7 linked regions of the Homo sapiens genome follow. The protein of the gene in region 1 purifies or fractionates together with the protein of each later gene. This does not show direct contact. Each region holds a gene or a part of one and is shown in the gene's direction. Other genes may lie near its edges.

What was found.
Region 2: the proteins of AP3B1 (region 1) and SYT1 purify together in Homo sapiens (co-immunoprecipitation; one large-scale study listed by IntAct). This does not show direct contact.
Region 3: the proteins of AP3B1 (region 1) and BTK purify together in Homo sapiens (co-immunoprecipitation; one large-scale study listed by IntAct). This does not show direct contact.
Region 4: the proteins of AP3B1 (region 1) and DDX20 purify together in Homo sapiens (affinity purification with mass spectrometry, with the first as the bait; one large-scale study listed by BioGRID). This does not show direct contact.
Region 5: the proteins of AP3B1 (region 1) and FKBP15 fractionate together in Homo sapiens (co-fractionation; one large-scale study listed by BioGRID). This does not show direct contact.
Region 6: the proteins of AP3B1 (region 1) and CAPZA1 fractionate together in Homo sapiens (co-fractionation; one large-scale study listed by BioGRID). This does not show direct contact.
Region 7: the proteins of AP3B1 (region 1) and ARHGEF1 fractionate together in Homo sapiens (co-fractionation; one large-scale study listed by BioGRID). This does not show direct contact.

Annotation. Positions count from the first base shown.
Region 1 is NC_000005.10:78,225,199-78,228,698, reverse strand, and holds part of AP3B1 (AP-3 complex subunit beta-1), read left to right. Parts: intron 1-459; coding exon 460-555; intron 556-1,166; coding exon 1,167-1,327; intron 1,328-3,090; coding exon 3,091-3,157; intron 3,158-3,500. UniProt on the Homo sapiens protein: Subunit of non-clathrin- and clathrin-associated adaptor protein complex 3 (AP-3) that plays a role in protein sorting in the late-Golgi/trans-Golgi network (TGN) and/or endosomes.
Region 2 is NC_000012.12:79,284,274-79,287,773, forward strand, and holds part of SYT1 (synaptotagmin-1), read left to right. Parts: intron 1-1,513; coding exon 1,514-1,698; intron 1,699-3,500. UniProt on the Homo sapiens protein: Calcium sensor that participates in triggering neurotransmitter release at the synapse. May have a regulatory role in the membrane interactions during trafficking of synaptic vesicles at the active zone of the synapse.
Region 3 is NC_000023.11:101,358,692-101,362,191, reverse strand, and holds part of BTK (tyrosine-protein kinase BTK), read left to right. Parts: coding exon 1-19; intron 20-1,436; coding exon 1,437-1,624; intron 1,625-2,041; coding exon 2,042-2,104; intron 2,105-2,844; coding exon 2,845-2,899; intron 2,900-3,495; coding exon 3,496-3,500. UniProt on the Homo sapiens protein: Non-receptor tyrosine kinase indispensable for B lymphocyte development, differentiation and signaling. Binding of antigen to the B-cell antigen receptor (BCR) triggers signaling that ultimately leads to B-cell activation.
Region 4 is NC_000001.11:111,765,901-111,768,500, forward strand, and holds the end of DDX20 (probable ATP-dependent RNA helicase DDX20), read left to right. Parts: coding exon 1-999; 3' UTR 1,000-2,100; downstream 2,101-2,600.
Region 5 is NC_000009.12:113,183,278-113,186,777, reverse strand, and holds part of FKBP15 (FK506-binding protein 15), read left to right. Parts: intron 1-414; coding exon 415-529; intron 530-1,973; coding exon 1,974-2,083; intron 2,084-2,378; coding exon 2,379-2,486; intron 2,487-2,932; coding exon 2,933-3,027; intron 3,028-3,500. UniProt on the Homo sapiens protein: May be involved in the cytoskeletal organization of neuronal growth cones. Seems to be inactive as a PPIase. Involved in the transport of early endosomes at the level of transition between microfilament-based and microtubule-based movement.
Region 6 is NC_000001.11:112,622,832-112,626,331, forward strand, and holds part of CAPZA1 (F-actin-capping protein subunit alpha-1), read left to right. Parts: intron 1-3,500. UniProt on the Homo sapiens protein: F-actin-capping proteins bind in a Ca(2+)-independent manner to the fast growing ends of actin filaments (barbed end) thereby blocking the exchange of subunits at these ends.
Region 7 is NC_000019.10:41,903,684-41,907,183, forward strand, and holds part of ARHGEF1 (rho guanine nucleotide exchange factor 1), read left to right. Parts: exon of another isoform or gene 1-23; coding exon 24-101; exon of another isoform or gene 102-103; intron 104-351; coding exon 352-427; intron 428-532; coding exon 533-700; intron 701-1,265; coding exon 1,266-1,353; intron 1,354-1,491; coding exon 1,492-1,578; intron 1,579-2,076; coding exon 2,077-2,144; intron 2,145-2,255; coding exon 2,256-2,342; intron 2,343-2,773; coding exon 2,774-2,937; intron 2,938-3,019; coding exon 3,020-3,103; coding exon of another isoform or gene 3,104-3,120; exon of another isoform or gene 3,121-3,125; intron 3,126-3,421; coding exon of another isoform or gene 3,422-3,500. UniProt on the Homo sapiens protein: Seems to play a role in the regulation of RhoA GTPase by guanine nucleotide-binding alpha-12 (GNA12) and alpha-13 (GNA13) subunits. Acts as a GTPase-activating protein (GAP) for GNA12 and GNA13, and as guanine nucleotide exchange factor (GEF) for RhoA GTPase.

The DNA of each region.
Region 1 (3,500 bases):
ATTTTTTAAAGAGGTAGGGTCTCTCTGTGTTGCCCAGGATAGCCTCTAACTCCTGGGCTCAAGTGATCCTCCTGCCTCAGCCTCCTGTGTAGCTGGGACTACAAGCATGTACGCCATGCCTGGCTTCTTTCTTTTATTTTTATCCCTCATTTTGAAAATATTTTTACAATTTAGTTAATATTCTTATATGAGATCTGCTCAGGGATTTTTTATTCCCTTCAAGAGGAAGGGACACTTTGATAGGCTATTGCTATTGTGAACTGGACTATTAAAATGCTTACTTTAAAAGCTTTTCCTGTTGTACTTATTATCCCACAAAATATTATTTTTATTTTACAATCTAACATGTGACCAGATTCAGTTATTTACTTGAGAAGAATTGAGCATGGATTTTGGTATAGCAAATACTGAGTTTTAAATTTTCACTCTGGTTATGAATAAATGATTTTTTTTTAACAGATCAAGAAGTTGGTATATGTTTACCTGGTTCGATATGCTGAAGAACAGCAGGATCTTGCACTCCTGTCCATAAGCACTTTTCAGCGAGCTCTGAAGGTAAATAATGGAGTGAGTAGGCAAATAGCTACAAGGTTTCTGCAGAGTTGAAAGTGTGTCAGTTAAAGAAGTGGAGCGATAATCCACTAAATAGCACAGTAGTGTCTTGAAAGAGTTAAAAGCCTCCTATAGTGCCTACTCAGTACACTTAGAAAATAATTTATACAACCAACTGAAACCTTGCTGTATATGTTACAGCTTCTGTATGTTTGTTTATATTCAATATAATTATTTTCATGCTTCAAAGAGCTGTTTATCATTATACTAGTTGTTGAAAGTACGCAAAAGGGGTTATAAGACATTTTTAAACATGAAATTGATGACCTGCAGCATTTTATTATTATGAAAGTATAAAAACCCAGCATATTTAGTAATAAATGACCAACTAGAATTATAACTATTACTTTTCTTTAAAACATTATTAAAGAAGTAAACATTTATGTCTGTCTTTTTTTCCCATTCCTATATACTAATTGTTCATTTTAAATTAAGTAGCTTTCTTTTGCTATTGTCATATTACACCCTTTAAGCACCTATTAACTGTGTCTGAAAGATATGTTTAAAATATTGTAAAGTTGAAATTTTGGTGAATATTTTTGCACTATTTTTAGGACCCAAACCAACTAATTCGTGCAAGCGCTTTGAGAGTTCTGTCAAGTATTAGAGTGCCAATTATTGTACCTATCATGATGCTTGCTATTAAGGAAGCTTCTGCTGACTTATCACCATATGTTAGGAAGAATGCAGCCCATGCAATACAAAAATTATACAGGTAGGTGCATTGTTAACAATATACCAAAGATCTCTGATGTTACATGGAATGTTATAGACCACAGAGGCTTGTTTTATTCGCTCTTTTAGGTAGGCTGCTCTTACACTAAGTAAATCCAGTGACTGTATGATGGTATTTCCCCCTGCTGCAAATGTTCCTTACACATCTTTAATTTCGTTTTGGCTATAGAGACCCTATGCAGGTTTTTATTTGTGAGGCTGTTAGAGCCTGTGATAATTTATAGATTTTATAACTTAAGAATAATCAGAATTTGAATTCTCATTTATATAGTCTATCTCATGTACACATATGCTTGTATTATTAGAAAATTGAGATTTTTTTTTCCTGTTTAGGGTAGAATCTTAAGTGTCTGATCCTCTCAACTCACTTATATGTGTTTTCCTTTCTTCCATCTTTGTTCCTGCTGCTCCCTTCGTTGTCTAATTCTTTTCCAGAGCTATTTTATTAAGTAATTTTAAAAAGTGTAGTGATTTGAAATATAGTGTGCTATACCATATCTGTGTGATATTTTAGAAATGTTATGCAATATTATACAATGCCCTGATCTCTGTGGAAAATTTACTGTCCAAATAGAATTGTCTACAACAATTTGGTATTATTTTCAGCTATCATTTATTCCTCAAGCTTTTTGAGACTCTCTTCTGTTTCTGGTGTTGTATTCACAGTATTGTGCTATGTGTATTTAGATGTATGAAAACAGTAGAGGATGTGGCACTTAATTATGAATAGCATATCATGTATTTGAGGAAGAAGATCAAAGACATACCAAATAATTAAAGGCAATCTATAATGAATAAGATATTAGCACTTGATATATATGTATATACAAAGGTACACTAGCAATGTCTTTGATAGGACAGGGACCAGAGATGATCATATTTTGTTACCGGAAAGTAAAGATGTAATGAGATGGGATTGGTAGTGAAATACTGCTTTGAGAAGGAAGACTTAAGCTGAAATTTGAAAGAATTAAAAAGTTTGTCCAGATAATTATAATGTTTAGTAATAAATGTGTATGTTTGTAGAAAGTGAAACCTCATATTCCTATGTTAACTGCCAGACAAGGTTTTATCATGCTTCTCACTCACCTTTTCTCCTTAGAAACTTATGGGATAAGATCCATGCTCACTCTAACGGCTTAAAAGTCCTTCTATCATTGGGCACCAGTATATTCCAGCCTCAATGCTTGCCTCTCCTTGCCTTGAGCTTATAGTCTGTTAGTATTCTATCTCAAATGTTTTAAGCTTATTACTACCTCTTATTTTTCCTAGTTTTAGTTGGCAGATTTTATAATGCATGTCTCTATCAGTGAACTAGTATGATATAAAATTCTTATTTGGAAATTCTCCATATTTGTTTTTGGGAAGTATGTATGCATAGTAAAATAATGACTGCTATCTAGTTATTTTTTTCCTCCCAGTTGAAAAGAGTTTGTGGTTTATCTACTTACAGTCGCTTTCTTGAAGTTTTCCAACTCTTTTAGAAGTGAACTTGTTCTTTCAGTACTATCTTAACTAAACCATTGATATCTGGTTTAGTTAATATGAACAATATTAGAGGGAAAGATGAGGACACATTCATGAGAAAAACCATCCCATTTTATTTGTTTTTCTTTATTTCTAACTTATAATTCTTGCTCTCCTTTCCCTCTTTAAAAATTTCTCAACATCCTTGAATTGGTGAGCATCATGTAAAGCTAGAATTAAAGGGAAAAATTAATATGTTATTTTTGTATTTTTTAGCCTTGATCCAGAGCAGAAGGAAATGTTAATTGAAGTAATTGAAAAACTTCTGAAAGATAAAAGCACAGTAAGTAATGTCTTTTTACGTCTTTGACATAAAAATGTACTTTATTTACATAGTATCATTTACCATTATATATTTTATATAGTTGTATTTATTGATTTCAAAATGGTATAAATATTAATGGCACACAGGACTATTTTTAAAGAACAAAAATTTTCATGTAATGAGAAAGACTGCATTTGGAGTTTTAGATCGTTATGTGTTTCTTCATCAGAATCTGAAAAAAGGCAAGTTGAGAAAAAAATCTTTAACCTGTGGCTAAGTGGTTAACATGGTAAGATCAAGGAATAGAGGTGACCTATGGGGGATGTGAGTTACTAGTGTACTAGTATCTTAGATGGGGCTT
Region 2 (3,500 bases), on another chromosome or scaffold:
TATCAGAGAGACAACTGTAATAGAAAACTCAATGTTTATTTTAGTATATTTATGTATATATGTTCTATTATTTTAAACAGCCTGTAAACCTAAGCCTCTCCTCTTATCTAAAAATCATCCGTCCTCCTCTCATTGCCTTTGCATTTTCACTAAACTCCCCTCTGTGTATTTATCTTGCTTTTTAGGTATTTACTTGTGTGAGTAGTTTATGTTTTTTCATATGTCCTGAGCTCTCTGCCTTACCCACCATGCCTTGACTATAAAGAAATGATAGCTAACTTTGGCCAGGTGTGGTGGTTCACGCCTGTAATCCCAGCACTTTGCAAGGCCGAGGCAGGTGGATCATAAGGTCAGGAGATCGAGACCATCCTGGCCAACATGGTGAAACCCCGTATCTACTAAAAAAAATATAAAAATTAGCTGGGCATGGTGGCGTGTGCCTGAAGTCCCAGCTACTCGGGACGCTGAGGCAGGGGAATTGCTTGAACCCAGGAGGCAGAGTTTGCAGTGAGCCGAGATCGTGCCACTACACTCCAGCCTGGCAAGAGAGCGAGACTCCATCTCAAAAAAAAAAAAAAAAGAATTGATAGCTAACATTAATTGAGCTCTTGCTATGTTCCAGATGCATTAAAAGCTTTTTAACATATTAATCCCTTTCATCTTTAAGCCAGATGAAATGGGTACCACTGTAATCTTCACTGTATAGAGGAGGAAACAGAAACTCAGAACAGTGAAGCAATCTGAGTAGAGTCACACAGCCTCTAAGTGGCCGAAGCCAAAATCTAAACCTGGGTTAAGAGCCACCGAACACATGAGCATCACCCACATCTGGAGAACTTCAGTGCATACATTTTCCCCATGCTTGATTTTCAAATCACCAAGTACTTTTAATTAACCTTCACTATTGTTATGATTTGACATTTGTTGTTCTATATATACAACTAATATCTGCCCCATACCATGCCAGAACATAAGAATACAACACCTAGTATTTTATAGATGAGTAATAGCAGCTGCCATTTATTAAGCTTTTGCCATGTGCCAGGCACTGCATCTTATTATTTAATACTCAGAAAGATCTATGGGGTACCTACCAATTTATTTCCACTTTAGAGATGAGGAAAGTGAGGCAGAGAGAGGTTAGATGACTTGCCCAAGATCACACAGCTAGTAAATGGTGAAGCCAGGATTTAAACTCAATGGCTGAACTCCAAAGCTTGGCTCTGAATGAGTGAAGAGATGTGTTCCTAGAAATCTAGCTTGGAGAGTCAAGAAAAGTAATAGGGAGGAGATGACATTTGACATATCTGGAAGGGCAAAGTGGGAAAGAAAGGAAACAATACACTCAAGGGAGACAACAACATGGATAAAGTACTGAGGAATGGTGTACCTGCAGCATAACAGGTGCTCAAAAATGCAAATGAAAAAAATGAATATCTTTATAGCCCATGAGTTAAAAGGTTTTCCACATCTAAGTGTTGTATGACTAGTGCTCTCTGTGTGTTTCTTTCAGTGCCACCGTGGGCCTTAATTGCAATAGCCATAGTCGCAGTCCTTTTAGTCCTGACCTGCTGCTTTTGTATCTGTAAGAAATGTTTGTTCAAAAAGAAAAACAAGAAGAAGGGAAAGGAAAAAGGAGGGAAGAATGCCATTAACATGAAAGATGTAAAAGACTTAGGGAAGACGATGAAAGATCAGGTAATGTATTCTTTCTACATTTCTTCTTATTTTGTTTAAAAAAGATAAACAAATGTATTATTTTATGCCATATAATTACAGAAATAAACAACTTCTGGACCCATATCGTTTTTGAGATGCTTTGCAAACCTTTCAGTCATTGTTCAAGATCCCAAAGCATAATGGAAGCATTTGGCAGGGTTTTCCAATCTCCTGAGCATATAGAACAGAAAAGGGCATCCATGATCATCAGGCCCATCTTGATGGGTTTGGCATATGAGAATGATGCCTGAATATTTTGATTACATCTGTTTAACCAGTCTTCATTGCGTTTAGAGTTAGAAAAATCAGATAAAAAGTGCCTGAGTGTTTTGCATTTGGGCAGGGGATCTTTCTAATTTCTACTGTTCATAGTCACTGTTAAATAACTGAGTTTTACGGCTGTTCATCAAACTGGATGAAAGCTGCTTTTCCTACATGTCCATCCAGCTGAAAAATTAATTCTCAAGAATAATGAGTTACATGGGAGAAGGGAGAGAAATATGAGCCAGTTCTAAAGAACACGACAGGATAGAATTTTTGCCTTATGAAAAAGTTTTCTTTCTTATTTCTTATAAGACAAAATTCTCATTTCAATTTAATAAGGACAATTACAACCATAACACTGGTTATAAAATCCATCTGGCTGGGTTATCTTTCCAAGCCCAAAAAAGCTATTTGGATGTTCTTTATGTTGCTATCTGTTTTTGGCTAAATTAATTGGACAACTTGGTTCAAGATAATGTTTACTATTATTAATGATAATTATTAAATGCCTCTTCATTTTTGAAATAATATCCATGTTGAATATCTCTAAAGAATATTTAATTCATATTTTAAAATTAAAATGTAAATGTACAGATTTTTTATAGAATTAACATTTTCAATTATCAATGTTTTCATCAAATACAAAAGTTTTATTTATTCCCAAATAGCAAAATATATAAGCAGTTTTATAAATTCCTCTTATACTATTAATTACTATTAATCAAACTCTTAAACCTGAATCTCCTTAAGAACAATTTAATCAGGTGTTACAACAGGCATTTTAAGTACATTTGCGTTGTTTCCTAGTTCATTACACATTCAGGGACATTAACTCCCCTTCCCAGCTTCAGTTTTAAACTCTTTTTCCTCAAAGACACTATAGTATCTATTGATAATAATTTCACAAAGGCTCATGTTTTACTCCCTGCATTTTTGTTCTGTTTTGGAGCTATGGAATGGATGAAATGCCTGTACTCATACTCAGAGAGTTTTGGCCTGAGCTCGGAGTAGCAAGGGTTTGATTTTTCTGGCAATTTCTAATCACAGTCACAAAAGCCAATGCATAAACGTTCAACTACAGGTGTCTAATAAAGATTTTTCTCTTCAGTTAATTTAAGTAGAAACTAAAATTTCCAGGCATGTCTTACTTTATTTCCACACTTTTCATAGCAAGCAGGACTTGATAAAGATTTCTTTAAACAACTTATTGGGAGATTAAGTGTGGAAATAACCTCCTAGATGGACATGGACTGAATAATATGTATGTTAATTTTATCAATATTGTGAAAACAATAATTTGACAATAGATCACTATCTTTTTCATAATTATCATAAAATTTGAATGTGGTTTCCCTGTGTTCTAGAACTAATTAAAATTACTGAATAATGTTAAGTGATAACGATAGCATTTCTTCCTAGGACAATAAATCTATAATATTTGTGGGATTTGTTCTGTATGATGTAAAATTATAATTTACAGCATAGTGGTGGTGTTTATTACCCCTGTTATGACCTGG
Region 3 (3,500 bases), on another chromosome or scaffold:
AACGCCTGAGGAGGACCAGGTATACAGGGAAACTGGGTGCTGCCACTGCTTAAATGGAAACTTATAGTCAAGCCCTAAGAACACACTAGAGTCTTAGAATTACCCTGGGACTTGGCAGTGTTAATTGGTATTCTTGCTAAGATGGGGGATTTGTTCTTCTAATTAGGATTTCCTCCTCGATGGAAAGATAGAAGGCTCTCAGCAACCATGTAATCCAATCACCTGTTTAGAACAAAACCTGATTTTTTTAATGTAAAGTTTTTGTTGTTGTTTTGTTTTTGCTTTTGTTTTTGTTTTGAGACGGAGTCTCGCTCTGTCGCCCAGGTTCGAGTGTAATGGCATGATCTCGGCTCACTGCAACCTCCGCCTCCCAGATTCAAGTGATTCTCCTGTCTCAGCCTCCTGAGTAGCTGGGATTACAGGCATGCACCACCACGCCCAGCTAATTTTTGTATTTTTAGTAGAGATGGGGGTGTCACCATGTTGTTCAGGCTGGTCTCGAACCCGCCTCGGCCTCCTAAAGTGCTGGGATTACAGGCGTGAGCCACCGTGCCCAGCTGGAAAGTATTTTCAAACATACAGTAAAGTTAGAAGAATTTAACACTTAATACCAACATACTCAACACTTAGCACTAACACCACCTATCACTAACACTTCAGAAGTTTTTTTTTTTTTTTTGGTTCCTTCTTGAGGGCTAGAAAGCCCTTTCTCACATATTGTAAGTAAGTAGAGCAGGTATTATTATACTCATTTTACAAAGAAGGAAACCAAGGTTCTGAGCCACTTAGTAGATTCACGTACAAGTTTAGTGCCAAGCCGGTTTCCTGACCTTAGCTATAAATGGTTTTTGTCTAGTGAGCTTTAAAAATAGTAATGTTTGGGTCCCATTCCTGAGAGTTTGATTTTGATGTAATTGGTCTGTGAGGAAACTGACTAGGTATTGGAATTGGTTTTTTGTTTTTTGTGGGTTTTTTTTTGAGACAGTCTCACTCTGTCACCCAGGCTGGAGTGCAGTGGCGTGGTCTTGGCTCACTACAACCTCCGCCTCCTGGGGTCAAGTTATTCTCCTGCCTCAGCCTCCTGAGTAGCTGGGGCTATATGCACACACTACCATGCCCAGCTGATTTTTGCATTTTTAGTAGAGATGGGGTTTCGTCACGTTGGCCAGGCTGGTCTCGAACTCCTGGCCTCAACTGATCCGCCCGCCTTGGCCTCCGAAAGTACATTGGAATTTAAAAGTTCCATACATGGTCTTTATATGTGTGCAAGGCTGAGAACTCCTGCACTGGTGCTTAAAAATGGTTGTTGAATGACTGCTGAGTAATATTTTAGTATGCCTGATTTGGGTGTCTTGAGTAAGCCAGAGAGTTGGGAGAGAAGAGAAGAGTGCTTGGTATCTTGACAAACCCTCCTACCTTTTCTCCTAACTACATAGATCTTGAAAAAGCCACTACCGCCTGAGCCAGCAGCAGCACCAGTCTCCACAAGTGAGCTGAAAAAGGTTGTGGCCCTTTATGATTACATGCCAATGAATGCAAATGATCTACAGCTGCGGAAGGGTGATGAATATTTTATCTTGGAGGAAAGCAACTTACCATGGTGGAGAGCACGAGATAAAAATGGGTGAGTCCACACCAGCCCTTCCTGAGCCTGGTGCCTGCCCACTCCCTACACGCAAAAAGTGCTGCGGCATAATTCCCGTGATCAGCATCCTCATCAGAGACTGTTCTTCCCACACCAGACTGAACATGCTCTCCCTCCAAGTACTTCCCAGCGTGCAGCTCCCTATACATGGCCTCTGCCACATCTCTGAGCCTCTGTTGTTGGGCACATATAACCAATGCAACATGTGCATAAGCTCTGCACCTCACTGGCTCACTGCCTAACCATGCATCAGAGACATGATTGTCTTTGAGGGAGGTGCATGATACATATACCTCCATTTGAGATTTGTTCTGAGCTCAGGGACGTGGGCATATGAATCTGTCTCCTGGAGGCTGGGGAGGTGCTGGATGAACTGCCACATTGTTTCCTTCACAGGCAGGAAGGCTACATTCCTAGTAACTATGTCACTGAAGCAGAAGACTCCATAGAAATGTATGAGTAAGTATGTTTATGTCAGTCCACAATCTTCCAGGAGGAACTCTCTCTCTCTATATATATATATATTTATTTATTTATATATATTTTATATATATTTATATATATATATAACACACACAAGTGTATATATGTATACATATGTATACATACACTGGTGTATATATAGGTATATTATGTATACATACACAAGTGTGTATATATATATATACACTTTTTTCTACTTTCAACATATTTTTTATTTCAAGATATATATTAAAATTAGTACCATCTGAATCAAATGATGCCACCACCTCAAATTAGTGTATCTGTCTTACCTTTACCCCCCAAACACCCTCCATTTATGAGAGCTGGAGAGGTCACCATGCCCTCAAATCCAGAAGAATCACACTCAAAGAAAAAGGAGTTGACGACCTGATGAAAGAATTAAAATGTCAAACTGCTACTGTTGTCCTTTCCTCCCTAATCATGGAAGTGGATTGTTCTCAAGTGCCCTAGTCCCTGATCTCTTCCCTGCAACTCCCTGCTGCTTGCCTTTGCCTGCTACTCTCCATTTCCATGAATCTTCAATGCCAACCTGGGTTTGGGAAAGGGATACAGTGTGCTATGCACATGACAGATGCTCAGTAAATAGGGTTTGAGTGAGTTGACTGAATCACTGACATGGACAAGCCCTGGAGGGTGCTGTAACCTCCAATCTGCTTATGACCAGGAGCCACTCAAGCAGCACTCTCCCTTCACAGGTGGTATTCCAAACACATGACTCGGAGTCAGGCTGAGCAACTGCTAAAGCAAGAGGTAAGTGTGGAACCACTAGCACACAGCATTCTCCTTGCATAAGTGAGGATCTTGAACTGAGGGCCTGTTCTGCCCCCTACCTTTGGGCAAGGCAGTGTCAAAGCTGCCATCGTCTGGGATCCCAATTACACCATTTTTTTTGTTTTTGTTTTTCTGAGACGGACTCTCGGTCTGTCACCCAGGCTGGAGTGCAGTGGCGTGATCTGGGCTCACTGCAACCTCCGCCTTCTGGGTTCAAGTAATTCTCCTACCTCAGCCTCCCAAGTAGCTGGGATTACAGGCACATGCCACCACGCCCGACTAATTTTTGTATTTTTAGCAGAGACGGGGTTTCACCATGTTGGCCAGGCTGGTCTCGAACTCCTGACCTCAGGTGATCCGCCCACCTCGGCCTCCCAAAATGCTGGGATTACAGGCATGAGCCACCATGCCCGGCCTGCACCTTTTAATATTAAAAGCAATGAGGCTGTAGCTCAAGCGTGGAACTTGGCAGTAAAATCAGGGGTTGTTCTATTTTCTCTCTCAAGTTTGGGCAGGTGGGATGCAGGTGTGAGCACCACTTCCTCCTACAGACAGCTTCTTTTTCGTTGTTTCAGGGGAA
Region 4 (2,600 bases), on another chromosome or scaffold:
ATGGCTTCCTCTAGAAATAATTCTGTATCTGGACTATCAGTCAAATCAAAAAATAATACCAAACAAAAGCTTCCTGTGAAAAGCCACTCAGAATGTGGAATCATAGAAAAAGCAACGTCACCAAAAGAACTGGGCTGTGACAGGCAATCCGAAGAGCAAATGAAGAATTCTGTTCAGACTCCCGTTGAAAACTCCACCAACAGTCAGCACCAGGTCAAAGAAGCTTTACCTGTGTCACTCCCCCAGATTCCTTGTCTGTCTTCCTTTAAAATCCATCAGCCATACACGTTGACTTTTGCTGAATTGGTAGAGGATTATGAACATTATATTAAAGAGGGGTTAGAGAAACCTGTGGAAATCATCAGGCACTACACAGGCCCTGGGGATCAGACTGTGAATCCTCAAAATGGTTTTGTGAGAAATAAAGTTATTGAACAGAGAGTCCCTGTGTTGGCAAGTAGTAGCCAATCTGGAGACTCTGAGAGTGACAGTGATTCTTACAGCTCAAGAACCTCTTCCCAGAGCAAAGGAAATAAGTCATACTTGGAAGGCTCTTCTGATAATCAGCTGAAAGACTCTGAATCTACGCCTGTGGATGATCGTATTTCTTTGGAACAACCACCAAATGGAAGTGACACCCCCAATCCAGAGAAATATCAAGAATCACCTGGAATCCAGATGAAGACAAGACTTAAAGAGGGGGCTAGCCAGAGAGCTAAGCAGAGCCGGAGAAACCTACCCAGGCGGTCTTCCTTCAGATTGCAGACTGAAGCCCAGGAAGATGATTGGTATGACTGTCATAGGGAAATACGTCTGAGTTTTTCTGATACCTATCAGGATTATGAGGAGTACTGGAGAGCTTACTACAGGGCATGGCAAGAATATTATGCTGCCGCTTCTCATTCATATTATTGGAATGCTCAGAGACATCCAAGTTGGATGGCAGCTTATCACATGAATACCATTTATCTACAAGAAATGATGCATAGTAACCAGTGATTATAGGATATACCTGAGACCATCAGGAACTGTCAACAAATGATACCTTTGGATATCCATCCTCCTCGACTTATAGTACAGTGGTGTATAGTGGCATTTCTGATAAACTTGAAAAGACTTGAGTCTTTCCACTGGGACACATCCATTTTTCAGATTGTTTTGATTTAGGCCAGGTATATTATCTTCATTTTTAAGAGTTTCTTTAAGAAACTTCATCAGATTGTTGAAAGATAATTTTTGGGACATAGAGCTGAAAGTTTCAGGGTGCCATTTTCTATAAGATCTTCCCAAAAGAAACATTTAAAAAGATGACATATACCACCACTTACTTAAAAACAATAAAAGCAATAGATTTGATTAGTAATATTATTGCTGTGGAGTTCTTTACAAAGGGCTTAGGCTGCATTTCCTTCTATAGAGGTGCATTCTTGTAGAAATTTGTAGCATGGTAGATCAGAAAATCCTCTTAGGTTTTAGGCAGGAAGGAATATTTAAACATTGCTTTAGATTTTCCTAAAGGTATTTGATTTGATCTGTTAGCTTCCAGTAAAAATATTTGTTTTTAGTAAAAACAAATTTAAATATATTTACATGTTTGTTGTTTATCTTTTGAATGTCTTTTGAGGCTGTGAAAGCTGTCCACATTTTTGCTGTGTATTAAATAGCTGTGGGTCATCAGTTGCTGTCTTACTTGTGTTGCTCAGATAGAGGAGCAGCTCTTAATCTTTTTTGGTTCTTGGATCCTTTTATGAATCAGCTGATAGCTATAGATTGACTTCAGGAAATTTCTCATTCCATAAGCACAGAATTGTGAGTGTAATTTCAAGGGGTTCATAGACCCTCTGAAGTTCATCTATACAGTCCAGATTAACAAGTGACCTGCTCTGCTGGTAGGCTAGGGGAAGTTCTAGCTCTTAGTTTTAAGTATTTTGTGGAAGCTGGAATTGATTCTCTTCAGACACTTCTTAGTACATCCTAATTTTGTGTCTTCTAGAAAATTTTCCCCAGTTTTTACCTCTAATGTTAGGATCCAAGAGGAGCTTGGATCTGAGCTGATGCATCTGTAAATTACGATTTAGAAAAATATAATTGGAAATTACATATTCTTTGCTTTTTTCCTCTGGAAATCCTTTTATGATTAAGCTTTTGGTTCCCAAGCCTTTCTGTGAACTGGATTTTTTATGAGAGAACCACTTGTGTAGAGAGATGTGTATTCACTTTTTAAAAGGAAAGCTCTTCTTTCCTGTGTACATACTTGTCTAGGTAGTATAAACACTTTCCCCAGGGCTGTCAGCAAACACCCACAGCCATTGTCATTTATTGTCCAACACCTACATAACACAATTCTAAAATCCTACTTAACTTGGATTCCTGTCATTTGGATTGGGCAATATTAGGCTTTTCTTACATGTGTCAGTATGTGAATTAATTAATAATGTAGATAGCAAATCCATAATTAGGTCCAGTATGTCATTAAGAAGTAGAGATTTTAATTACACATTTAAATAAGATCCTGTCATTGATATATAATTGAATTTACTTTTTCCATCCTTTCCCCCACAATACAGCCAAGTTCAGTTTGTCATTGCTGGGGGATTTTA
Region 5 (3,500 bases), on another chromosome or scaffold:
AGAGGCATCCTTGGAAATTGGCAGATTTGGTTTGGAATCTCAGTGAGCACTTCTTCTTTAAACTCAATGGAAGCTAAGCAGAGTTTATTAATCTAAAAACTTCTTAGACAATAGGCCTGATAATGGGGAATGAATCCCTGCTTAATTATCTCACCAGATGACTGGGTAGTGACCTAAGATACACTTTCTTCAGTTTCTGGGTAGGATTTTAGTGACTGGTTTCCCCTGGGATACATAGATAACTCTCCTGCTGCAGTCCTTACCAACTGCCAAACCCAGATCTCACCCATCTCTAGCTTCAGTAAGTTTGAGTCTCCTCCCAGCTCATCCACTTTATTCCACCAAAGAAAAATGTGAACAAAAAAGAAAGACATGAATGTTTTATCAACCAGTGGTAACTCGTCAGTTTCTCAGCCCTATGCAGGTATGCAAGCCTACGCTTATCCCCAGGCATCTGCCGTCACCTCCCAGCTGCAGCCCGTTCGGCCTTTGTACCCAGCACCGCTCTCTCAGCCTCCCCATTTCCAAGGTAGGGAGTAATTCCCTCAGTTTCTCATCTTCCGCTCTTGCTGTGCTTTCCCTCTTCTTGCTCCTCCTTCATTTTCACACCAACAGCTCTCTACTCATTGTTTCTTCTCTTTTTTAACAGCTTTGTTGAGATATAATATGTATTCCACACATTCATTCATTTTAAATGTGCAATTCAAAAGTGTTTTAGTAAATTTGCAGAGTTGTGCATTCATCACTACAATCCTATTTTAGAACATTTCCGTCATCCCCCAATGTTTCCTTGTGTCCACATTCTGTGTTTTTTTCCTTGGATTTTCTCCCCTGGCCCTTTTAATTCCTCTGTTAGAGTAGCTAGAGTTTAGAGAAAATAGTAAAAGAGCAAAACATTGGAGGAAATTGGGAGAAAGTTGAATACTATAGGTGTTTAGTATCTCTAATGAAAGCTACTCTGTTAACATTTTTAAATTATGAAAATAAGAGACTTTTATAAAAAAGTCAAGCAGTACAAAAGGGTGTAAAGTGAAGTTACTGTCCTTCCCCTCCATAAACCCCCTGACCTTGGGAAACTGTTGTTAACAGTTACTTGGGTAACTTTTCAGATATTTTGTATGCATGTACAAATGTGAGTATCTAATGTAAAAAAATCAAACCAAGATAAAGTGTAAACTGCTATGATGGAATCCTGCCTTGTTCTGCTATTAGTCTTCTGTTTAGTAATCAGCTTTGGTATTAGGACAGTGGTAGGAAGAAGCCAGTATGTCCTGCAACATAATTTGTGGTTCTGGACTGGTCAGGATTTCCTGAATGCAGCCTTTATCTGGAAGCTCTGCCCTTCTCCATCTGGGATACGCTTTTTCATCCATCAAAACTGTCATCTCCCTCTGTGAAGCCTTCCCTGACTATTCTCTGTCCCTCTTTCCTCTCTTCCCACAAACACAACTGTGTACGCGTGTCACCAAAGAGTTAATCGTGCTTTTCTCTGTGCTACTTTTATACCTAGTATATGGTCCATTGTTTTGCACTTAATACACTCTCTTGTAATGATTTGTTTACATGTCAGTCTCCCAGCCAGACTGAGAGCTCACCAAGGGCAGAAGCCGTGTTTTGTTTACTGCTGTATTCCTGGTACCTGGTACAATGCTTGGCATACAGTTGGATGAACGGGAAAGTAATCTGAGCTGCCGGTGCTGTGGCAGTGCAAAGTGGGCATATTTGTGCCCTTGGACCAGATGTAGCCCTTGATGCATTTTGCAGGAACACGGCTTAGTTATTGTTTACTTTGAAGCCCTTTTGCCTCTACTCTCTCCCATATATCTTCTCCTGACAGGGTGAAGTCACCTATAGCATTTCCTAGTGTATGGAAGTATTAATTTCTTTCTTTACTGGAAGAGCTACTAGCTTTTCTTCATACAGTTTCCTCTGCTCCAGTTTCATAAGTTTCTTTTTGGCTTGTATCTGTTTAGGATCAGGTGATATGGCTTCATTTCTCATGACTGAAGCCCGGCAACATAACACTGAAATTCGAATGGCAGTCAGCAAAGTGGCTGATAAAATGGATCATCTCATGACTAAGGTGACTGAGTCAGAGTTGGGGTGATGTTGAAAGTGGGGATGTAAACAGGGAGCAGCCAGAACTGTAGGTAAACTCTTCTTTGATTTCCTGCATTGGTAGTAGTGAGAGGTTATTTCCCTACAAGGATAGTTATAATTATGTTGGGATCCAGTTAGTAGGAGAAAACTCTAACTTAACAGTTAGAGATTGTCCCAGGAACTCATTAACCCCCTTAACAACAGGGTCAAATCTTGGGTAAATTGTATTTCTTCATTTTATAATTTCTCACAAGGTCTTTCTGGTATCCCTTTTGTAGGTTGAAGAGTTACAGAAACATAGTGCTGGCAATTCCATGCTTATTCCTAGCATGTCAGTTACAATGGAAACAAGCATGATTATGAGCAACATCCAGCGAATCATTCAGGTGAGGGTGATTAAGAACATACCACTCAGGCTGAAGGTCTTACCCATCCTCTCTTCTCAGAGGTACTACTCTTTAACACCTCCACCCCAGAAATAGCCTGTGATAAACGCTACACTGGGTTAGACAATTCTAGAAAATCCATTATGGCTTAATTCTGTCCAAGTGACTTATCACTATATATTCTGAAGGAAACATTGCTTTTTTGACCATACTTCAGAATTTCACTTCTTTTTTTAGCCATTTATTCACTCAATCCATTGGACCTAGTGATTTGTATCCATCAGGTGTAATCTGATGTGTTGTTTTAACATACATGTGGACATAAGTTCTAGTGTTTTGTCTCAAAACATGTTAACAATGTCACCTGTCAGTTCAAGTTGATTCTCTTCTATCTGGCACTTTTCTCCCAAGACACTTAAATTGTACATCATATATTTTGAAATTAGGAAAATGAAAGATTGAAGCAAGAGATCCTTGAAAAGAGCAATCGGATAGAAGAACAGAATGACAAGATTAGTGAACTAATTGAACGAAATCAGAGGTAATGACAGGTACGGGGCCTGGCTAGGATGGACAAAAGGGTTTATTATGTATATGCCCAGCTTAAGTACACGTATTTGTTTAGGGCAGTACGTATGTATTTCTGCCATTTCTGTTTCCTGCCTGTCATGTGAATTATTGCCTGTTTTCTGAGAGGCATTGCAGTAGAAGGAGCTTAGTAGGCTGTGATGTAGGGCAGACCTGTGTTTGATTCCTGCTCTGACCCTCATTCATTCTGTGGCTCTGGGCATGTTATTTATTCCTGCTGGCCCTAGTTTCTTTATCTTTAAAACTGGTATTATTACTTACAGAACTCTGGTGTCAACTCTTCTCTCTTCTGTGTGGGCTAACTCTATTTTATCCATCAGAACTCAGCCAAAACTTCACTGATTCCCATATAAGACCTAAGGATTTTGTACTTTTTGTAGATACTTCTGAAGATTTGGAGGGGTGGGTGGGGAGGATGAGTGGAAC
Region 6 (3,500 bases), on another chromosome or scaffold:
AAATAGATGAAATATGAGGGCTTTGTTAGAGCACATGAAAAATATTTTATACTTTTTTTTTTTTTTTTTGAAACGAAGTCTTGCACTGTCTCCCAGCGGGCTGGAGTGCAGTGGTACGATCTCGGCTCACTGCAACCTCCACCTCCTGAGTTCAAGTGATTCTCCTGCCTCAGCATCCCAAGTAGCTGGGATTACAGGCACCTGCCACCACACCCGGCTAATTTTTTGTATTTTTAGTAGAGACAGGGTTTCAATATGTTGGTCAGGCTAGTCTCAAACTCCTGACCTCGTGATCCGCCTGCCTTGGCCTCCCAAAGTGCCGAGATTGCAGGCGTGAGTCACTGCACCTGCCAAATATTTATGCTTTTAAACTGGATCCTTGATTATGTATTACCTCCTTAATTTACTAGTTACCATTGTAGGATAAAGCAAGCCCTAAAGATTGTTTGGTGTGGCTGTTTTCTAACAAGTCATCAATTAATATTAAAACTGTCATTCTTCCATCTTCACTTTTCAGTTAGTTTTGCTGAGAGGTATTCATATAATCTGTTAAGACATCCTAGGACAGGCCGGGCCCAGTGGCTCACGCCTGTGACCCCAACACTCTGGGAGGCCGAGGCAGGTGCATCATCTGAGGTCGGGAGTTTGAGACCAGCCTGACCAACATGGAGAAACCCCATCTCTACTAAAAATACAAAAATTAGCTGGGCGCAGTGGCACATGCCTGTAATCCCAGCTACTCAGTAGGCTGAGGCAGGAGAATCGCTGGAACCTGGGAGGCGGAGGTTGCGGTGACCCGAGATCACGCCATTGCACTCCAGCCTGGGCAACAGGAGCGAAACTCCGTCTCAAAAAAAAAAAAAAAGAAAAGAAAGCCCGGGCGCGGTGGTTCATGCCTGTAATCCCAGCACTTTGGGAGGCCGAGGCGGGTGGATCACGAGGTCAGGAGATCGAGACCTGACCTCAGGAGATCGAGATCCTGGCTAACGCAGTGAAACACCGTCTCTACTAAAAATACAAAAAAATTAGCCGGGCGTGGTGGCAGGTGCCTGTAGTCCCAGCTAATCGGGAGGCTGAGGCAGGAGAATGGTGTGAACCCGGGAGGCAGAGTTTGCAGTGAGCCGAGATTGTGCCACTGCACTCCAGCCTGGGTGACAGAGCAAGACTCCATCTCAAAAAAAAAAAAAAAGAAAAAAGAAAAGAAAAAGAAATCCTAGGACAGGAGCATAAAGCCTAATAAGCAGGTGCAAACTCACATGTCCAGTCTTGTTAGTAGTACTGATTTATCATAATTTCTTCCAGAACACTTAGCTGTTTTATTACGACCAGGCTTAATGCTAAACAAAGTAGTGTAAATTTGTCAGAAAATTCAGATCCCAGGTTTTTCTGATTATGTAGCCATGCTTTTTTCACTATACTTTTCTTTTCCATATAGGTATGAATGAAAAACCAGAGTAGAGACATCCATTTAGTGGATTATAAATGAGGTATTATGGGCTGGGCATGATGGCTCACGCTCGTAATCCCAGTACTTTGGGAGGCCAAGGCGGTCAGATCATCTGAGGTCAGGAGTTAGAGACCAGCCTGACCAACACGGTGAAACCCTGTCTCTATTAAAAATACAAAATTAGCCAGGTGTGGTGGTGCATGTCTGTAATCCCAGCTACTCAGGAGGCTGAGGCAGGAGAATAGCTTGAACCCAGGAGGCGGAGGTTGCAGTGAGCCGAGATCGCGCCATTGCACTCCAGCCTGGGCAACAGAGCAAAACTCCATCAAAAAAAAAAAAAAAAAAAAAAAAAAGAGGTATTATGATGTAATGGAAAAGAGTGATTGTGAGTGTTAGATATGGCCTTTCCCTTTCGTGCTTCTAGCCACCTTGTCACTGATTTTGGAAACCTCACTTAACCTCTATGGGTGGGCCTCAATTTCCATCTAAAATAGAGAAGTAGGGAGGAATTGGATCAAACCAGCCCAAGAAAATTTAATTAACTATTTCAAACTCTAATGAAAAATCTCTACTTTAAAAATTGAAACACAAAAATGTTCTGGGAGGTTCTATTCATTGTCTGCTTTCCTACATTTGCCCTGATTACAAGACTGAGTTCCTTGATAATTGAAACCATGTCTCTTTATCTAGTGCCTAGCATAGTGCCAAGCACACAGTGTATGCACAGCCTATTGGTATGAAAGAGAACACAACTTCATTAATTCTCATATCTCTCCAGTTCACACCCCTTCATCTCCTGTAAAACACCCCTTCCCCTACAATTATTTCTGTTAGTCTCTAGGTGTTTCTTGTATTCAAGAGTATGTCCACAGTTTGGGTGCCTCTGTGCATTCCTTCTATCTGAGCATCTGCCATCATTGGTGCTCTGCCATGCCACTGCTGGGAACATTTGACCCCTCTGGGAGCATCTTCCTAATAGATCCCATAAACTGCAAAGCCTTATGGTTACCAAAATGATGGTGTATATATATACTTGGAGCCTTGCAAAGCCCCTAATGAAAGTATTTCCTTCACCAGCTAGAAGTACTCTCCTTTAGCGATCAGATTAAAACACACACCCAGGTGTGTGTTTTAAAGAAAAAGGACCCAAGAGGGAAAAAGTTTCCAAGGCATGAATGAATTAAGAGTGGCAAATGCTACTGAGATAGAAAGATTAGGACGGAGAAAACAGCACTCACTCTGACAGTATTCTTTCCAACTGGATTTGGTAAATAAGAGTGAAGAGGTACCTCGAGTGAGCACTGGGAGAAGTCATACTGGAAGGGATAAGCAGTGATTGACATAAGAAAGTAAAATAAATTCAGGTTCATCCAGACACCCCCATAATCTTGCCTTGACCCAGAAACATTGTGTTCACAGGACTTTCAGCTTCCCACCCCCATAAGTAAGCTTCCTAATTATGATATCTTGGTCTTGCCAAGCATTTAGAGGGCCTTACTCTGTGGCCCTCCAGATAGTGATTTGAATGATTAAGTAAACCTCTTTTTAGATAAGTGTTCTAGTCCAGTCTAACATCAGCTTGTTGGTCTTTTTGGCACTGTCATTGTCCAGTACCAGCACATTCTTGGCTCCTTGCCACATCTCTGGCCTCAATGTGGGAGGCAAAGACAGTGAGCATTTCCAGAGTGGTGAGATGGGTGCAGCACATAATGAGGCGATGACCACACAGCATCTCTGAACAGCATGTCCACACAGGGCTCGAAGTCATTATGCTGCATGTCCACCTCATGTCCACAATAGCTGAGCAGTTGAGATTGGTGGAGTGGACCTTCTCATTACTCATCATCTAGAGGAAGGTCCTCATCATCTCTACTTCTCAAAGGGGTAGAATTGAACCTGAACCTGCTTGACAGACAAGAGCCCAAGCCTAACCAAGGTGGCTGCCATGGTGACCCTTGCCCTGAAAGCCATTTCCATTAATTTAAAAATTGTAGGTATATAGGAACTATAATAACAGGCTTAAAATTAAAATTTGCTCTGTTTGTTGGGTCAC
Region 7 (3,500 bases), on another chromosome or scaffold:
TAATGCTCCCGTCTCTGCCCCAGAGGCTCAAGGACTATCAGCGGCGCCTGGACTTGTCCCACCTTCGGCAGAGCAGCGACCCTATGCTGAGCGAGTTCAAGGTGTGACCATACCCTCCTGCCTCCCCCGCCCCCCTACTCCTTGGCCCAGGGGATTCTGTGATACAGCCCCCAGCCTGTCCTGCCCATCCCATAATACACCCAGGAAGCGAGAGCTCTGTCCCCCACCTCATGCCAATCCCATGATCCCCAGCCTGTGGTCATCCCCGGCCACTGCCCTGCCCTTCCCCTCCCCACCAACCCCAATCACCCCCTGCCAACCTGCACAAACCATCACCCCCTCCTGCCCCAGAACCTGGACATCACCAAGAAGAAATTGGTCCACGAGGGCCCACTGACGTGGCGGGTGACTAAGGACAAGGCAGTGGGTGAGTGCCAGAGCAGCTGCCTAGTGCAGGGTGTTGGGGCAGTGAGCCAAGGGCGGGGAGGGGGTCGCGCGGGGGCACGCCGTGTGAGCACTGCTCGCCCCGTAGAGGTGCATGTGCTGCTGCTGGACGACCTGCTGCTGCTGCTCCAGCGCCAGGACGAGCGGCTGCTGCTCAAGTCCCATAGCCGGACACTGACGCCCACGCCCGATGGCAAGACCATGCTGCGGCCCGTGCTGCGGCTCACCTCCGCCATGACCCGCGAGGTGGCCACCGGTGAGTGCAGCCACTGCATGGCCCAGGGCAGAGGGTGTCTTTTTTGGGCAGAGCTGCCTGTGGAGTGGGGAGCAGAACCCTCTAGAGAGCCAGGGAGCCAGCATTCTAGCAAAGAGGTTGAGAAGTAGGTGGAGGTGGGCAGGGCGGGGCCAGGCCTAGAGGGTTTATAAGTGAGGTAGGAACTGCTGCAGGTGTTTGCACAGAGGCGTGTCTTGTGTAAACAAGGAGAAGAAAGGCCAGGAGTCCAGTGAGGAGGGATTTGTAAACATACTACTAGGAAGTTGCACCAGGGCCACAAACACTGGAAGCGGCTGGAGGGTGGGAGTGGCTGGAGGGGTTTCGTTAGGTAAGCCAGGGTACATGCCCGATTCCATAAGGAGGTGTGAGAGGTGGGGCTCAGGAGGACACATCGGGCCCTGGATATTAGCAGACAGTGAGTGGTGAGTTGAGCCATGGGAGCCCTGAGAGCGCCACCACTGTGGGTGACTTCTCCAGCTTGTGCTTAGGGAGGGGCAGGCACTGGGGGGACCTGGGCTCTGAGCCCCATCTCCCCCTCTCCCTGCAGATCACAAAGCCTTCTACGTCCTTTTTACCTGGGACCAGGAGGCCCAGATATACGAGCTGGTGGCACAGACTGTGTCGGAGCGGAAAAAGTGAGGGGGGGTCTGAGTTCTGAGTGTGGGTGGAGGACGCCCAGGTTTCTGGGTTCCCAGGGACAGGAGGGCTGTGGGGAGGCCCTGGCATAGGGTCTGGGGGCTCTGACTGCCCAGGGATTTGGCCTTTCTCCCCAGCTGGTGTGCTCTCATCACTGAGACTGCCGGATCCCTGAAAGTCCCTGCCCCTGCCTCTCGCCCTAAGCCCCGGCCCAGCCCGAGCAGGTGAGGGGGGCCATGGAGAGAGCTGGAGGTTCAGGGAGTGGGGCCGGAAGGCGGGGCAGGCTTCCCTCCACAACTCCAGAACCGTCTCTGTGTGAGCATGCACATGTGTGAATGCATGTGTGTGCATACATGTGTGTCTGTACGCAAGTATGTGACTGTGCGTGCATATATAGTGTGTGTATGCATGCATGTGTGCGTGTGCATGTGTGTGCGTGTATGGTGTGTGTGTATGCATATGTGTGCATGCGTGTGACAGCATGTGCATGCATGTGTGTGTGTGTGCGCATGTGCCGACCCCACCACTGCCCCGTCTGTCTCCTGTCTCCAGGCCTCTGTGTCTTCCATTGTCTGGGCCTCTCTGTCTCCCTGTCTCCCGGCCTCGACCTCTGTCTCTGTCTCCGGACCTCCCTGCCTCCCCACCTCCAGCTCTCTGTCTCCCTGCCCCTGCGGCCCCCCAGGGCCAGGGGTGTGGGGTCACCCAGCACTTCCTCCCCTCAGCACCCGAGAACCCCTCCTCAGCAGCTCTGAGAACGGCAATGGTGGCCGAGAGACGTCTCCAGCTGATGGTGAGACCAGAGGGATGCTGGGTGAGGGGCCAGGTTGGGGCTGCCGGGTGAAGAGAGGCATCCACAGGAGGCCCGGCAGGATCTGAGCTCCCTCTCTGTTCCCCAATCCAGCCCGGACCGAGAGAATCCTCAGTGACCTCCTGCCCTTCTGCAGACCAGGCCCCGAGGGCCAGCTCGCTGCCACGGCCCTTCGGAAAGGTAGCCCAGCTCTGCCCCTCCAGGGTGGCCACCAGCCCAAACAGTGCCTCTGTTCCAACTAGAACAAGGCTCTCCACGTCAAAAATTTCCTTACGCCCAGCTGCCAGAAAACAAATGCTCCAAACCCACCCAGCCTGCACCACTGTCCTGGGTGCCCACGTCCCTCTTCTGCAGCCACCATCCCTTGCTTGATTCTATATTTAGCCTCTTCCTGAACACATCTCTGTCTTCAGTACCTTCCTGCCCTGTCCCAACCCTAAACCCAGCCTCACTTCTTCACCTCCCTTTGGATCCCCGAACCCCATCTGCTCAGCCTTGCCTGGCACCCACCTTCACCTCCAGCCCCTACACATCCCCTTTGGAATCCCCCATCCCAGATCCCAGCCCAGCCCCCTGGTCTCCTGACTCCACCCCTCCTTGCCCCTGGCCAGTGCTGTCCCTGAAGCAGCTTCTGTTTCCGGCGGAGGAAGACAATGGGGCGGGGCCTCCTCGAGATGGGGATGGGGTCCCAGGGGGCGGCCCCCTGAGCCCAGCACGGACCCAGGAAATCCAGGAGAACCTGCTCAGCTTGGAGGAGACCATGAAGCAGCTGGAGGTGGGGCGGGACGGGCCAGGGGTGCCCTGAGTGGGCTGGGGAAGGAAGGGGCCCCCCTCATCCATGACCCCCACCCCACCAGGAGTTGGAGGAGGAATTTTGCCGCCTGAGACCCCTCCTGTCTCAGCTTGGGGGGAACTCTGTCCCCCAGCCTGGCTGCACTTGAGGTTCCCGCCCAGGAAGGTGAGTGGGGCACCTGGGGGCCAGGGCGCTGTCCTGAAAGGAGGGTCCCCCTCCAGAGCTCGCATCCCTACAGCCCCTTCTGTCCATCTCCCTCTTTGTCTTTTCTGAATCTCCCCACTCCACCTCGTGTTTCTCATCTCTGTGTCTCTGTTTCTGATAATCTGTTTCTCTGTCTCTGTGCCCGCCTGCCTCTCCCCACCTCCCCTTCTCTCTCTGCTCTCCCTGTCTTGTCTCTGTGTCTGTCTCTCCCTGTCTCTCTCTCCATCTCTCCCCGTCTCCCCTCTTCTCCTACATCCCCCAGGCCTTTTGCAAGAAGGAGAGGAATGGGGGAGAGGACGTGAGGGACCACCCCCACCCACACAGCTGCCGCAGCATCTCAC